Homo sapiens: one gene and its partner. The protein of the gene in region 2 purifies or fractionates together with the protein of the main gene of each other region. This does not show direct contact. Each region holds a gene or a part of one and is shown on either strand. Other genes may lie near its edges.

The links.
Region 1: the proteins of ZZZ3 (region 2) and YEATS2 purify together in Homo sapiens (affinity purification with mass spectrometry; 3 studies listed by BioGRID, with this or other methods). This does not show direct contact.

What each region holds. Positions count from the first base shown.
Region 1 is NC_000003.12:183,805,550-183,813,011, reverse strand, and holds the end of YEATS2 (YEATS domain-containing protein 2), read right to left. Parts: intron 6,147-7,462; coding exon 5,920-6,146; exon of another isoform or gene 4,983-5,919; coding exon 4,908-4,982; exon of another isoform or gene 4,900-4,907; intron 4,283-4,899; exon of another isoform or gene 4,160-4,282; intron 3,916-4,159; coding exon 3,842-3,915; intron 2,994-3,841; exon of another isoform or gene 2,561-2,993; intron 2,538-2,560; coding exon 2,429-2,537; 3' UTR 388-2,428; downstream 1-387. UniProt on the Homo sapiens protein: Chromatin reader component of the ATAC complex, a complex with histone acetyltransferase activity on histones H3 and H4. YEATS2 specifically recognizes and binds histone H3 crotonylated at 'Lys-27' (H3K27cr).
Region 2 is NC_000001.11:77,672,659-77,679,889, forward strand, and holds part of ZZZ3 (ZZ-type zinc finger-containing protein 3), read right to left. Parts: intron 1-7,231.

The DNA.
Region 1 (7,462 bases), on a different chromosome or scaffold from region 2:
TCACAGCATAAGGACCGTGTCACAGGAGTGACTTGTTTCAGTCCTCAACACAGTCCAATTTTACCCTGCCAGATAACCCGGTATGTTTCTTTGTTAGACACGAGGAGCTGATTCTCTCTCTGCCTTGGCTTTAAGGAAGCTCTGAGCTCATTTATGCAGTTTTCTTTTGCCCCAAGCTGTCAGGAATAATTATGTCCATTTCCAAATTTTTTTTAGACTTTTATGTAACTGTAATCCTTTATCTTATACGGTTGCAACATTTTTTTTTTTTTGGCAAGAAGTAGAGGAATTAATTTAAACATATCAATAAGACTCTACACCATCACCTCATCCCAGTGCAGGGAGAACCCTGCCTGAGTACCATGCTTCAAACTCAGAAACACCCACCACAAATACCAAAAGATTTATTGTAGACAATTTTGTTACACAATTATACACATTATGATACACGTTTGAAACATTAACACACGTGGAGACTGCTAAATCATTTAATATTTCTTTTGCAAAAAGATAATTTCTTTAGGCTGTGATACCTGCAATAACCAATCTGTTCTCATTTGGATCAGATCTTTCTCCCTCTGTCCTGGAGATCTCACAGTTCACTTTGCTGAAGCAATCTATCCACTTCCCTATCGACCTTGCTTATAGCAGTTCAGGTATAGACTATTTGAGCCTTATATACTAAACTGTTAAGCCAGTGCGTGCCCTATGCCCTGCTGAGAATAGATTCCTTCTGTACTTGCAGCCCTCAGATGCTGAATTGATCAATCAATTTTTGAGACGGGGTCTCCTCTGTCACCAGGGCTGGAGTGCAGTGGTATGATCTTGGCACACTGCAACCTCCGCCTCCTGGGTTCAAGTGATTCTTCCTGCCTCAGCCTCCCGAGTAGCTGGAATTACAGGCACACACCACCATGCCCAGCTAATTTTCTGTATTTTTAGTAGAGACGGGGTTTCACCATGTTGGTCGGGCTGGTCTCGAACTCCCAACCTCAGGTGACCCACCCACCTCGACCTCCCAGAGTGCTGGGATTACAGGCGTGAGCCACCATGCCCGGCCCAGATGCTCAATTTAAAAGGCAGAGTTTATTCAGTCACTCCCCGCCTTACCTTCCTGACTCAAACATCTACAGGACCCATGAAAACAGGAATTACGTTGCTTGGGTAAGTTTCTCTGACTCTGACTCACAGGTTTCCGATTTTCCTGGAGCAGAATAGAACAGATTTCTGACTGGGCATGCATTCTTTGTTCTGCCTTCCACACAGGCTGTGTTAGGAAGTCTGAGATGGGGCGCCTCCAATAGACCCGGGCACCTGGCAGCGCCACCTTCTCCTGCCTGCCACTCCCTCCCATCGAGGGGGCCTCTGCTTGTGGACACAGACTAATCTCACTGCTTCTGGGCACTGGCATCCTTATTTCTGGGCATGGGCAGTTACTTCTCCAACTTTAAGGCACTCACTGGTATTTCTTTTAAATACTTTTCTTCTTGGGAAAAACTCCTTAACAGAGAAGAGTATATACAATCCACGGATAGGACAGACGACCCCAGAAGAGCCTGCCGGGCGCCGCTCCCCACTGGCCACTCAGCATGGGGTCAGCAGCAGAAGCTCCTGCAGGCCATGCAGATGGCGTGGAACCTGCGATCTGCTTCGCACACATGTGTAACGCTGCTACACTTCTGCCAAGTGTCTGGGACTGGTGCACACAGTCTATTCCTAGCATAGTGAGTTTTCTTGGTTATAATCAAACCTCTTCCTGACTCCTGTTGGGACCTCTCCGTCCCTTGCCACTGCTTTGACAATGGTTCTAGTAATGCTCTCGTGCTCAAAAAAGGAATTCTGCTCAGTCTGCCGTCTCTCAGGCCTTCATGGTTCTTGGCTCTAGGTATGGCCTCTTCCTATAGCTGACTCACTTGGGCTCAGAGTACAGCCCCTCCACACCAAGGCCAGGCATGGGAGAGAACCACCTGCTGAAGGCTGAAGCCCAATCTCTCTTCAGGGTAACTGCTGGAGCTACTGGTAACTCCAGCCCACAAAATGGGTGAAATCTCTAGCCTGCCACTCATTTTCTACCTCCTGGGGAGGCGGGCCCAAGGAGCCCCCTTAAGCACACCCAGGGAGAAGGGCCTGAGGCACACGGCCTGGCCCGCTCTCGTGGGGCCTTTACAAAGACTGCAGAAACGCTGGCCGACAAAGCACGGATCCACTGACAGCCTCACTCCACACTCAGGAAACAAACTCCTGTCCTAGGAGGATTTCATCTGGAGTGCAGCGTGCTGGTGACACGTGGGAACAGGCAGCGGCAAAGGTTGGGTAGCCATGACATGCCGAGTCACACTGGAAACCACCTCCTTCCCGAGCAGCAGGGTCCTCAGTTACAGCTTCGCTGTGCCTTCAAAGCCTGCTTCTCCAGGGCACCTCACTCCGCTCACTGGTCCTCATTCAATATTCCCATGTGTTTGTTTGTGAGGAAGTCCAGAAAAGGAATGTTGCAAATGGCCTGGTGAATATTACTCACTGTAATTTCTTTGGGAATCCTGGTCCAAAAAACAAAGGGTGTTACCAGGTGAAATTCTCTCACGTATATCTCATCATTTATTCACTTAACTCATCACAGGGACCATCCCAGGCAGAGGCCCCGTGGAGAGGGCTCCTGAGCCACAGACATAGCTTAGGGCCACTCTGGGGTGAGGACTGCCTTCCTGTCATAGGCATGAGAAGGATGTCAACAAGTTGGTTGAATAATTAGGAAAAAAGATTCTGAGAACTGAGAAAAGAGAAAGAAAACAAAGCGGATGGCAGAACGGAATGACACATTTGTGAGTGAGTCTCAGCAGACCGAAAGCTGAGTCAAAGCACCACAAAACTCTGGGACCTTATTTCCCATCTCCTAGAAAGACGGGAGACGGAGCCACGCCAGGCCAGGCGTGATGTTAATCGTTCCATCAAAAGCACCTAAGTCACTCTACCCCTCCAGGACAGGGAGCACAGAGGTAAGCAGGGGCCACAGGAGGCCCTGGCTCACTTGTGGGTCCAAGCAGGACAGTGGGCAGCAGGACCGGAACTCTTGGTTCCCCTTCCTTTTCTCTAAAGACGCCTATGTTGTCTGATATATTCCTGTGAAGTTTCATCTACTATTCCTCTGATTTAGGCCCTTCATGTCCTCAGGCACTTTGCTACAATTTTATAAATCTGTGACAGCCTTTAGCATAATGCAATAAAATAATATTTGTTTCCTCCGAAAGAAAAGCAGATGTGGCCTATCTACCATCCTTTCAGGGCCTAGGAACAGACTGAAACTCAGTGTCTTAATCAAAGACAACGAGTCAGCAAAGAGCAGTGGCGAGCCCAGGGGCCTCAGAGCCAATGAGACCTGAGTCGGAAGTCCAGGTCTACACTGTATTTGCTGGGTAAGCTGGGTAAAATTACCTTTCAAAGCCCGGTTTCCTGATTTTTAAAAAGAGAATAATAGTTCTGCAATGAAAAACAAATTAGGTAATATATGCAACGCTTGGCCCTCGTGTCTGACATGTAATGGACACTGTTATCTTTAATTGCAAAGCTAATATTTATTCAACCCTGTAATAAAACAGAGTCCTAGGTGTCTGTGAAGTAATGAGGAGGATATAAACCTCTGAGCAAAGCTGAGTGAGCTTTCACAACCATGAGGTTCTCTAAAAATGACAAAGCAGACCCTTGAGCTCATCTGGCTCTAAGAGTGTCCTAAGCACTCACTCCATCTCCTACTGGATTGATGTAAGTATAAAACACCTTCATGGGCAATTCAACTGTTAGGAAAGAGGTGTAAGCCTCACACCACAGACTGCAGAGATAGTAATACCTGTTGTGAGAAGCTGTCTGGTATCCAACTGCCAAAGCCTGTCTCAGGATATCATTCACCAGCTGTTCTGTAGCCTACAATGGAAGATGCTGTTATTCTTCAAATGGCCATCTGCTTGCTGGCAAGAAGGGACACATTTAACCCCATCCCTTACCCCAAATGTTTGAAACCACTGCAACTAGGGATTAAAAAGTCCTTAAGAAAAAATTAAAGGCCTCAATAATAGACCATAATGATAAAGGCCATGATTCTGAGAAATTATGAATTGGAGTGATTTTCATTAATCAGACATTATTCTATTTATTTATTTATTTTGAGATGGAGTCTCACTCTCGCGCCCAGGCTGGAGCGCAGTGGCGCGATCTTGGCTCAGTGCAACCTCCGCCTCCCGGGTTCAAGCGATTCTCCTGCCTCAGCCTCCCAAGTAGCTGGGATTACCAGGTGAGCGCCACCAAGCCCAGCTAATTTTTTATTTTTAGTAGAGATGGGGTTTCACCATGTTGGCCAGGCTGGTCTCCAACTCCTGATTGCAAATGATCCACCCGCCTCGGCCTCCCAAAGTGCTGAGATTACAGGCATGAGCCACCGCGCCCAGCCCTAGACATTGTATTTAAGGAAAGCAGTTGTTACGGAGGTATCCCTATTCTTGGAGAGGATCCACGAGGAAAGGAACTGCTGAGCTAGGATCAGGCTGGGGAAGGAGGCTGCGGCATTTTCGTCCCCTTGCCAGGGTCAGGACAGTTGGGGCTGTTTGCTGTTGTGACGTGTACAGAAAACCATAGGCTTTGTCTCTGCCACCTCCTAAAGCAACGAGCACACTGACCACCACCCCCAGAATACGTCTTAGGAGGCACCTGAAACCACATGACTCAGAGGAAACATAACTTAGTCCATTTAAAAATCAGAAGGAAAAAAAACAAAAAAACAAAAAGAGAGAACTTAAGCCCAAATAAGACGAGACATTTTAAAGCCTGTTATCTTTGTTCCTTTTCTGTCCTTGCCCCTTACTCCAAACCGCCTGGGATGCAACCATCCTTCCTGGCTGGCGGCCCCTGCAGGCACCCACCTTCAGGATCATGTCCTCCACCACGGACGCATACACGTTCCTGTGGAGTGCCACGGGCTGCAGGGTGATCCCAATCTGGAAAAGCAGAAGAAAGCCGTTTGTTCGTATCGCTGCTTTAGAAACAGCCTCTCTCCAAACAAGCATACCTCCCTGACATGCAAAGCGATGCCTGGTTGGAAGGAGGACTCTGCAAACATATTGGGCAAAATTCACGGGAAAGGAACACGGAATATAACATCTAGAAGAATGTTATCTTGTTTTTCCACATTTCTGGCTGATATTTAAAATATGACTATAATCCTATTAAAATCTCTCAAATCTCCTTCGTGGGAGAACATGGTTGGGATCTGCCTGGGTTCTGATACGCAATCAACACTTTGAAAGGTCTGGAATCAGACTCCAACGTCCTGTTTGCACTTGGAAACTGCATCTTGCCCATTCTTCATGGCATCCAATGAAAGCACACTGTCTTTCACCTTGGGCCCTGAGCAACTGGCAGATGCTGAAGAGCTGTTAGGCTCCAGCAGGGTGGATAAATACCTCTCTCCTGTATAGTAAGGCAGGTGCACGCCATCTGCACCACAGGCGGGGCACTCAGGAGCTATCAACACATCAGGGGAGGATTACGCGCTGACGTGCAACTCAGAAAGAGTACGACGTGCCTCATGAGGGAAAGGTGCTTCTACTGAGGCAGATGAGAAAAACAAGATGAAGAGTAATCAACCATTTCTATCTAGCCAGCTTTGCTTCACGTCTGCGTTCAACAAGCAATGTTTTCACATGTAATTAGCATTTCTGCCCAAGGGCTCTGATGTGGGACGGTGGGAGCCCTGAGAGCACACCTGGGTCAACCAGGCAGAAGGAAGTCAAGCATCTACGGCACCAGAAGAGTCTGGGTCTGAGTCTGTGTCTGTGAGGCTGAACACCTGGGTCTGGGTCTGTGAAGCTGAACGTCTGAACATCTAGCTCTGAGCTGGTCTGCTGCATGAACTATTAACACCACAACCCCTACCTTCTGTGTGACATCCCCAATAAATTCAGACCCTGGGGTTGGTGGCAGGTAGAACTTGACTTCCTCTTGTTTCTCTTCCTGCTCCTTCTTGATGTTTATCTTCACTGGCTCGGAGAGGCTGAGGATGTCCACCTCCTCCTCATTCTCGGGTTCCCTTTTCTGGAACTGTTGCAGGTCCTCCAGTTTGCGGCAGAGGTTGTCAGCAGAGGAGAATGATGATGGGCACTCTAAATGACAGGCAAGCAGTGTTACAACAGCTGTGGGGCCAACGGAAGAGGACTTTCCGTCTCCAAGAGACCCATGGTCTGAGGAAGGGGGATAAGCATCAGGGGAGCTGACCTTCTTTCCAGTTCTAACATTCTATGGATCTATAATGATGAGAACTAGTAATTCACGAGGGAGAAAGGCATAAACACAGGCATCTTGTGTGTGATCTATGTAAGGTAACTGCCATCTAAGATGAAAGAGTAGGAATTCTCACTTCTGCCACCAAAAACCAGGTCATCCCCCTCCCTCTGAGTATTAAGGACTGACCTGATTTTTCCTCATCTCAAATCTGGAAAATTTAGAAATGCAGAGTGAAGAAAATAAAAAGAATCACCCCTATTCTCACTGCTCAGAGAGCAGGACTGTTAACATTTCAATGTATATTATGGGTCCAGTCTCTAATAAGGTGATTTATACAAAACCTAATCAGGAGTGTGAGGACCTCAAGGCCAGATCTAGGGCACTAGTGCCCTTCCACTTTCTGGATGAGTGTGTGAGGTCCACACCAGGTACAAGATTTAAGGGCACCCAGCTCCTGGCCTTTTGTTTTACTGACTGGGCTCTAACAAGCTCCAGCTGCTCCTCAAGTTATGATGGCTGGGGCTATATCCTGAAAAACCCATCGTAAGTTGAAAATATCATTTTTGACTTAGGATATTTTCAACTTACGATGGCCTTATCTGGACAAGGCCATCGTAAGTCAAGGTATGTGCTGATGCCTACAGCTTTCAGACCATTGTAAAGTCACAACATCAAATCACAGGTCAAACCATTGTAGGTTAGGGGCCGTTTGGAATCAGTCAGATTAAAAGGAAGCCTAGTATGTGCAAGTACTGTGCTTTCCACACAATGTCAGTGAAGCCCGGGGATCATTAACACGGTCTCTGCTCTCCGAGTAGCTTACACAGCGAAGTCAGACAAGCCCTCATGCTGTTGATATTAAGCGCTGCAGGAGATGAGAGAAAGGAGAGGCCATCCTGCATTAGGCTCTCAAGAAGCTTAATGGCAAAACTGGGACTTGCCCCCCCTTTTTTTTTTGGACAGGGTTTTGCGCTGTCACCCAAGCTGGAGAGGAGTGGCATGATTACAGCTCGCTGCAGCCTCAACTTCTTGGGCTCAAGCAATCCTCCCTCCTCAGCTTCCCGAATAGGTGGGACTACAGGCATGCACCACCATGCCCGGCTAATTTTTGCATTTTTTGTAGAGGCAAGGTTTCACCGTGTTGTCCAGGCTGGTCTTGAACTCTTGGGCTCAAACAATCCTCCTGCCTCAGCCT
Region 2 (7,231 bases):
TGCCATATAGCTACAAATAAATCAAAATATCCTTGGTGAAATTCTCTTAACTACAGAAAGAGAAGTAGCTACCCATGTGCTTGGCTTAGGTCAAAGTGGAAAATGCTCTGACTAGTTCACTAGGTAGAACAGCATTTATTCAAATTTAGAAGTAACTCTATAACCATTACAAAAGTTAGTTCATCTCTCCCCCATTCTTCAGGAGATAATGTTCCCCTATTGCATGATGTTTCCCCAAAGTCAGACATTTAAACTCTCCAGATTAAAAAACAAGTGATTTTTTTTTAGAAAGTAGGCTAAAACTTTACAATCATTTAATTTCCACAAAAGCTCAGCAAATAAAAGATGACTGAAGTACAGGACTGCTAAGTATACACGTCACTCTTAATCATGACCAAAATACCTAATTTCAACAACTATTGGCCATTTATAATATTCTGGCCCTAACACTTACTGACTGAAATAACTAAAATTCACTTAAAAAGGAAATTAAGCATATCATCCAGGCATATCATAACCATAGGACTTATATGAAAGAAAAATTATGTGCAGGAATACAGTCATAAATCTTTCACTATGACTTTCCTTAAAATTAAGAAAGTGAAATGAGAAGAAAATACAAAAGGAGAACTCCTGAGAAGAAAGTTGCACTTTACGGCCAGGCAGGGTGGCTCACGCCTGTGATCCCTGCACTTTGGGAGGCTGAGGAGGGCAGATCACCTGAGGTCAGGGGTTCGAAACCAGCCTGGACAACGTGGAGAAACCCCGCCTCTACTAAAAATACAAAAATTAGCCAGGCATGGTGGCAGGCGGCTGTAATTCCAGCTACTCGGGAGTCTGAGGCACGAAAATTGCTTGAACTCAGGAGCTGGAGGTCGCAGTGAGCTGAGATCGCGCCACTGCACTCCATCCTGGGTGACAGAGTGAGACTGTGTCACACACACACAAATAAAAGTTGCACTTTACACTTGAAGCTAGCTTGAAAGGGGTTAATAAGCAGGTAAGTCTCTTAGCTGATTCCCAATTTTTTACCAGCCTATTTGATTTTATAATCTACACACCACAATGTTGTACTGTTCATAAATATAAAAGTTGTACTGTTCATAAATGTTAAGTATTTTGAAAGTAAAGTGGCTTAAACTTAAATTGGAATCTTTTTCTTGGTGGGGAGGCTCACAACATGCTTTGAAATAACTGAAGATACTACATGGTATCATAAAAATTAGAATGGGAATCACTGCTTGAGGAATTCAAAGAATGAAAAGCAAGCTACCAAGTCATAAAAGTCCAAAAAGCCATTAGCTGGCCAGGAATCCTGTACCATAGTTTTTAAAACAAAATTTTTAAGTAGGAAAAAAAAAAAAAAGCAGCTGAGGTACTGCATAAGCCATCAGTGACATAAATTTTAAAATCTACTATTTACCCAAATAGCAATAAAACACAAAAAAGGTCATTAAAACACAAAAAAAGGTCTACCACAGAGTTTAAAACAAAGAAGGCTTTTATTTGATGTCCCCTCCTAGGAGTTCTTGAAAACCATGAATGCCATGAGAAAAATGTCTAAGTGTTGAGATCTCAAGGTACAAATCAGGTTGAGTTATAGGATTTCTCAGGTTACTCGTATCAGAACAGGATGAAGACACAATAAAACAGCTGAATCTCACAAACATAACATTGAGCAAAAAAGGCCAAACACAAAAACAATACATACTGTATAAATCCTAGGCTCAAAAGCAAATAAAATAATTCTGTGGTACTAGACATCAAAAGAGTGATTTCTCTTGGTGAGGGGTGGCACCTAGGGACCATTAATGACCGGAATAAACACACAAGTTTCTGGAGTTCTGACAGTGTTCTTCTTAGTGACGATTACACCAGTGTGCTCACACTGTGAAAATTCACTGAGGTGTACATTTATGAGAACTTTCTGTGTGTATTATACTTTAATTGTATTTATCTTTATTTAAAAAGAAGGAAAAAGAGGAGATTTCTCCTTAGGAAAAGACACATTGGCCGGGTGCAGTGGCTCACACCTGTAATGTCAGCGCTTTCGGAGGCCGAGGTGGGCAGATCACTTGAGGTCAGGAGTTCAAAACCAGTCTCCCCAACATGGCAAAACCCCGTCTCTACTAAAAATACAAAAATGAGCTGCACATAGTGGCGTGTGCCTGTAGTCCCAGCTACTCAGGAGGCTAAGTCAGGAGAATTGCTTGAACCCAGGAGGCAGAGGTTGCAGTGAGCCGAGATCACACCACTGCACTCCAGCCTGGGCAACAGAGTAAGACTCGGTCTCAAAAAAAAAAAAAAAAAGAAACATTACTGCAAAAACACCATAAAAATCTACATATAGTGAAGACAGTTCAGGTAAGAATCATAGGTTTGGGGTGGAGAGTGGAGAGTTAATATAGAGAAGTATTACATCCCCAATAATCTATGGAAATAAAAAAATGTAAATAAAAAAAGAGAGAAGTATTACAAAGTTCTTCAAGGGCTATTAGTGGATAAATCTCACACACACCCCTTTGCCAGGAGAAATAATCTTGGTAGTTCCCTCTATAATACAGCCAAGCCACCTAAAAGCATTATTTCATTTTATTTATGAAACACATCAATCTGCTTTCCAACGGGAAAGTGTGTAACAACGGCAGGATCTATTTTCCTTTAACTTCTGACCAATTAAAAAAAAAACTTTAAAAACTAGTAAGGAGGGTAAATAGTGCCAGAATATAATTAGCAACGCTATTTCCTGGACAATTTCAGTGACATTTTGAAAAAGCAACTCATCTCTCATGTGGCAGCCGAATTCCAGTAGGAAAAAAAGGTGTTAAGTTATGTTCCAATCCCTTTAAATCTCACCATAACCCAAGACAGAAGGAAATTACATCACATCGAATTGTTCATCTTCAGTTCTCTGTAGGTGTTCTTCAAGCACAGGACACACTTTTTTTTTTTTCAAATATTTATTATTTTTTCACACTCAAAGTTACTTAAATCTGGCTTTTCTTACTAGCATTATTGTAACCAGAAAAATCTGTAAACAGAAAACATTAAAGCCATTTAATAAAATTAACAGCTTTGTAGCCATCACAATTTCAAAATGTAAACAAACATAAATACCTTTTTTCAATTATTTTGAGATCACAAATTATTTCATAACAGAAAAAAAGGCATCATAGTAAACAGTAAGCACTCTCAGTATTAAAAATGCTCTTTGACATAGATACCTTCCTAAAGCTTACCTGAATGTCTATGCTATTAAATTTCAGTAAATGTATCATATTGCTATCTCAACATTTGAAGAAGGTATTGTGATTCTGTAACCTGAGTCCTACAGCTGTTAAATGAAACTTTTTCACTAAATATCTTAGAGGTATATGATATCAAGTTGTATACTGCTGTTTAACACTTTAAGCATACATCCTAAACTGTTAATCTTAGGAGTTAATTTCTCTAATTCCCCAAAATCTGCCAAAGTAGTTTTACTCCTTACAGTCTCTAGTACTGTACTTGTTGGTTGGGGGTTTTTTGACAAGGGTCTCACTGTGTCACCCAGGCTGGAGTGTAGGGGCGCAATCTGGGCTCATTGTAGCCTCAATCTTTTGGGGTCAAGTGATCCTTCCACCTCATCCTCCACAGTAGCTGAAAGTACAGGCGCACGCCACCACACCAGGCTAATTTTGTGTATTTTTTGTAGAGACGAGGTCACACTATGTTGCCCAGACTGGTGTCCAAATCCTGGGCTGAAGCGATCCTTCCACCTCAGCTTCCCAAAGTGTTGGGATTACAGGCATGAGCCACTGTGGCCAGCATAGTACTTTTAAGTAGTTTCACATTTTATCTCTGTTCAAAAAGGGGGAAATTTTCATTTAATGCAACCAAATTATGTGGTATGGAAAAATCTTATTTCAAATTCTGGCTGACAAGAAAAGGAATTATAAAACATTGTTTTGTTAAAAAATAAACTTTATTATCCTCAACTTACAGTAATCTTAAAAATAAATAAGGAAACAAACACCACAATAAGAAAGCCAAGGCAAAAGATATTAAACATATCACAGAATCATCTAAAAACAATATGAATGTTCTTAAGGCTTGGGGTAAAAATAAACAATTTAAAATAAAAATGATTAAAATGTAAAAATGAAGCATAACAAAAAAATGAGAAAAATTAAAAAATTAAATAAAGCATTATTTAACAGAGTTGAGAAAATTACCAATTTGGAGGAAAACATTTAGATTCTCATTTCACACCAATGCCAGATGAGGTAAAAACTTAAATTTATTTAAATCTAACTTAGAAAAACTAAACAAACAGAATTAAACCAATATTGTTTATTACAGTTCTGAAAAGGGAGGAATTTCATAAAATCAGCAGAACAAAATTATATCAAGATGTTTGGGCCAGGCACCGTGGCTCACCCCTGTAATCCAGCACTTTGGGAGGCCGAGGTAAGTGGATCACCTCAGGTCAGGAGTTCCAGACCAGCCTGACTAACATGGTGAAACCCCATCTCTACAAAAATACAAAAATTAGCCGGGCGTGGTGGTGTGCATCTGTAGTCCCAGCTACTCAGGAGGCTGAGGCAGGAGAATTGCTTGAACCCGGGGGGTAGAGGCTGCAGTGAGCCGAGATGGTGCCACTGCACTCCAGCCTGTGCAATAGAGCAAGATTCTGTCTCAAAACAAACAAACAAAAAGATGTTTGACTGCAATAATGTTAAAATCTATTTATCTTCAAAGTTCACAAGATAAATACATCTATAAACATGCTTCACCTCAGTAATTAAATAAATAAAGCACAATATGTCATACACCCCCATTAAACCTTTATAAAAAATGTTAAATGTTGATGAGTATAGGGTAACAACCACTCGAAAGAGAATACAAATTTATCCCTTTTGATTAATATTGTTCAGTATGTTTTAAGAGCCTTCAAAATGTACCTAAAAAATCAATTCTGGCAATATACAAGAGAGAGATAATACTATATACAAGAAACATGTATAAATATGTTCTTCACATAGGGGAATAACATATGTTCACTGCACAGAACATTTTACAATCATTTATAATGATAGTTATTAAGATGCATTGTGAGAATGGGAAAGTGGTACCTAACAGTAGGTTAAAAAGCAGGACATGAAATTAAATGTTTTTACCCACAAATACATAAAAAATATACATTAAAATAATGGAAGAAATATATCAAAATGCTAATAATTGTTATATTAATTCCCAAAATCTAATTCCTCAAACCAGCTTTCAAAATCATTAAAATACATACACACCCCTTATACACAAGTCAAAGACTATCTACTTTACCACTAATGGAAGCATAAGGTTTAAATTAACATAGTAAATGAGACAGAGGAGGCCAGCAATGCAATGAAAAAAACTCACTACAAAAACCTGGCACCTTAGGACACTTGGGCTAATAGACTCAATACCAGGATTCAAAACTATACAACTGAATCATATGCATAGGTCATTTACTAATTCTAATTATCTGCTTTACTATCTTCTCCATTAGCAAATGTGCTAATCTTTAGGCAATTGGTTGTTCATTACTGATATCAAATATTAAATGTAATAGAGCCTTGTTTGGGAGTAATTCCTTGAAATATTAAGTAGAAAGATAAATAGGTTAAAATAATAAAACAAAGGAAGTTCCATACACAGTAGCACCATTTTTATTTGGTGTCATCTGATAAGGAGAGATCTACACGTAAATTTTCCAGAAAATTGAAACTTAACATTTAATTAACAGAGTTTTGAAAATGGTTACTTTTATAGCAATCTCAAAAGACACCAATTTCTTACTTCCTTAAACATAGTACACAGAATAAAAGTTCATTATTAAAGTTATCATTGTGATGCATCAACTTACTAGGCTGCTCTACGATACTGTCATTCCTTCAGAAGTTAATGATTATAGGAGTGTATGTATTTATGTAATGGCCTTAAAACACTATTCTACTATAGTTCCACCTACTTTTTAATAGTTCTTCCTTTTCCCCTGTAGATGACATTTCAGCTGCCAATGTCCCTAACTCCAATGGCCAACACTGAAGATTTTTATCTGTGGACTAATTCCAATTAGTAGTTTCCTAATAAAGGCTAATGGCTTATTATACTTGGTTGCAGTCATTTTGAAGGCTTAGAGATTTTTTTATGTCCAGGATTGCTGTTATGTTTCAAATGGCTGAGGTCATTAGCAATAAATGTCAGCTGAATTACTGCCTCTAACTTACAAATATACTGAAGTTCCAAAACAACAGTAATAATAATATCTGAATAGTTTGATTAATCACAAAGTGATATTCTCCTCAAGGCAAGTTAGTCAACTCACTCCTCTCTAATAAGACAAAAATTACCTACATAAATGAGAAAAATCAGCTGAAAAGAAAAACAGAAAGGTGAGAACGAAAGGGTCAAACAAAATAATCAAGACTTTGGACTTTGGGAAATATTTACTGAGAGTGGTTTTCAGAGTACAATTATAGTGGTTATCAGAGCATTAACTACAGAAATTTGCACCAGAGTATATACCAAATCTCTAGTAAATACTACTATAAAAATGAAACTCTTCTAGCAACTATTTCTTGTAGGTGACTCCAAACTGAATTTTCATATGAAATTTAGGTGTTTTTATTTTATTTTTGACACAGGGTCTCACTCACTCTGTTGCCCAGGCTGGAGTGCAATGGTGCAATCACAGCTCACTGCAGTCTCAACCTTCTGGGTTCAAGCAATCCTCCCTTCTCAGCCTCCCAAGTAGCTGGTACTACAGGCGTGCACTACCAGGCTAATTTTTTTTCTTTTTTGGTAGAAACGTGGTCTGACTATGTTGTTGCTGGTCTCAAGCAATCCTCCCACCTCGGCCTCCCAAAGTGCTTGTATTACAGGCGTGAGCCACCAGGCCCAGCTTAAGGTAACTTAAAGTTACAGGTCTGTGGAAATTGGCATGGTGTCAGACCTTAAGGAAAAAACTCAAGTGAGAATAAATCAGTATTATTATATTATCACTGTTAATAGTTTCCTCTGATCACTGAAGTTCATTAGCTCTCATCATTTATATGACCGTAATAATTGAGAAAAGTGAAAATTAAATTTCTTGGTTATTTAAATTTTACTCAACCAAACACAAACCATGTAAAAATACATTTTTCCTCTTCCTTGGATTTTTCTCAGTATATTTCTACCAAGTACCTCAAATAATTTCGTGTCTGTA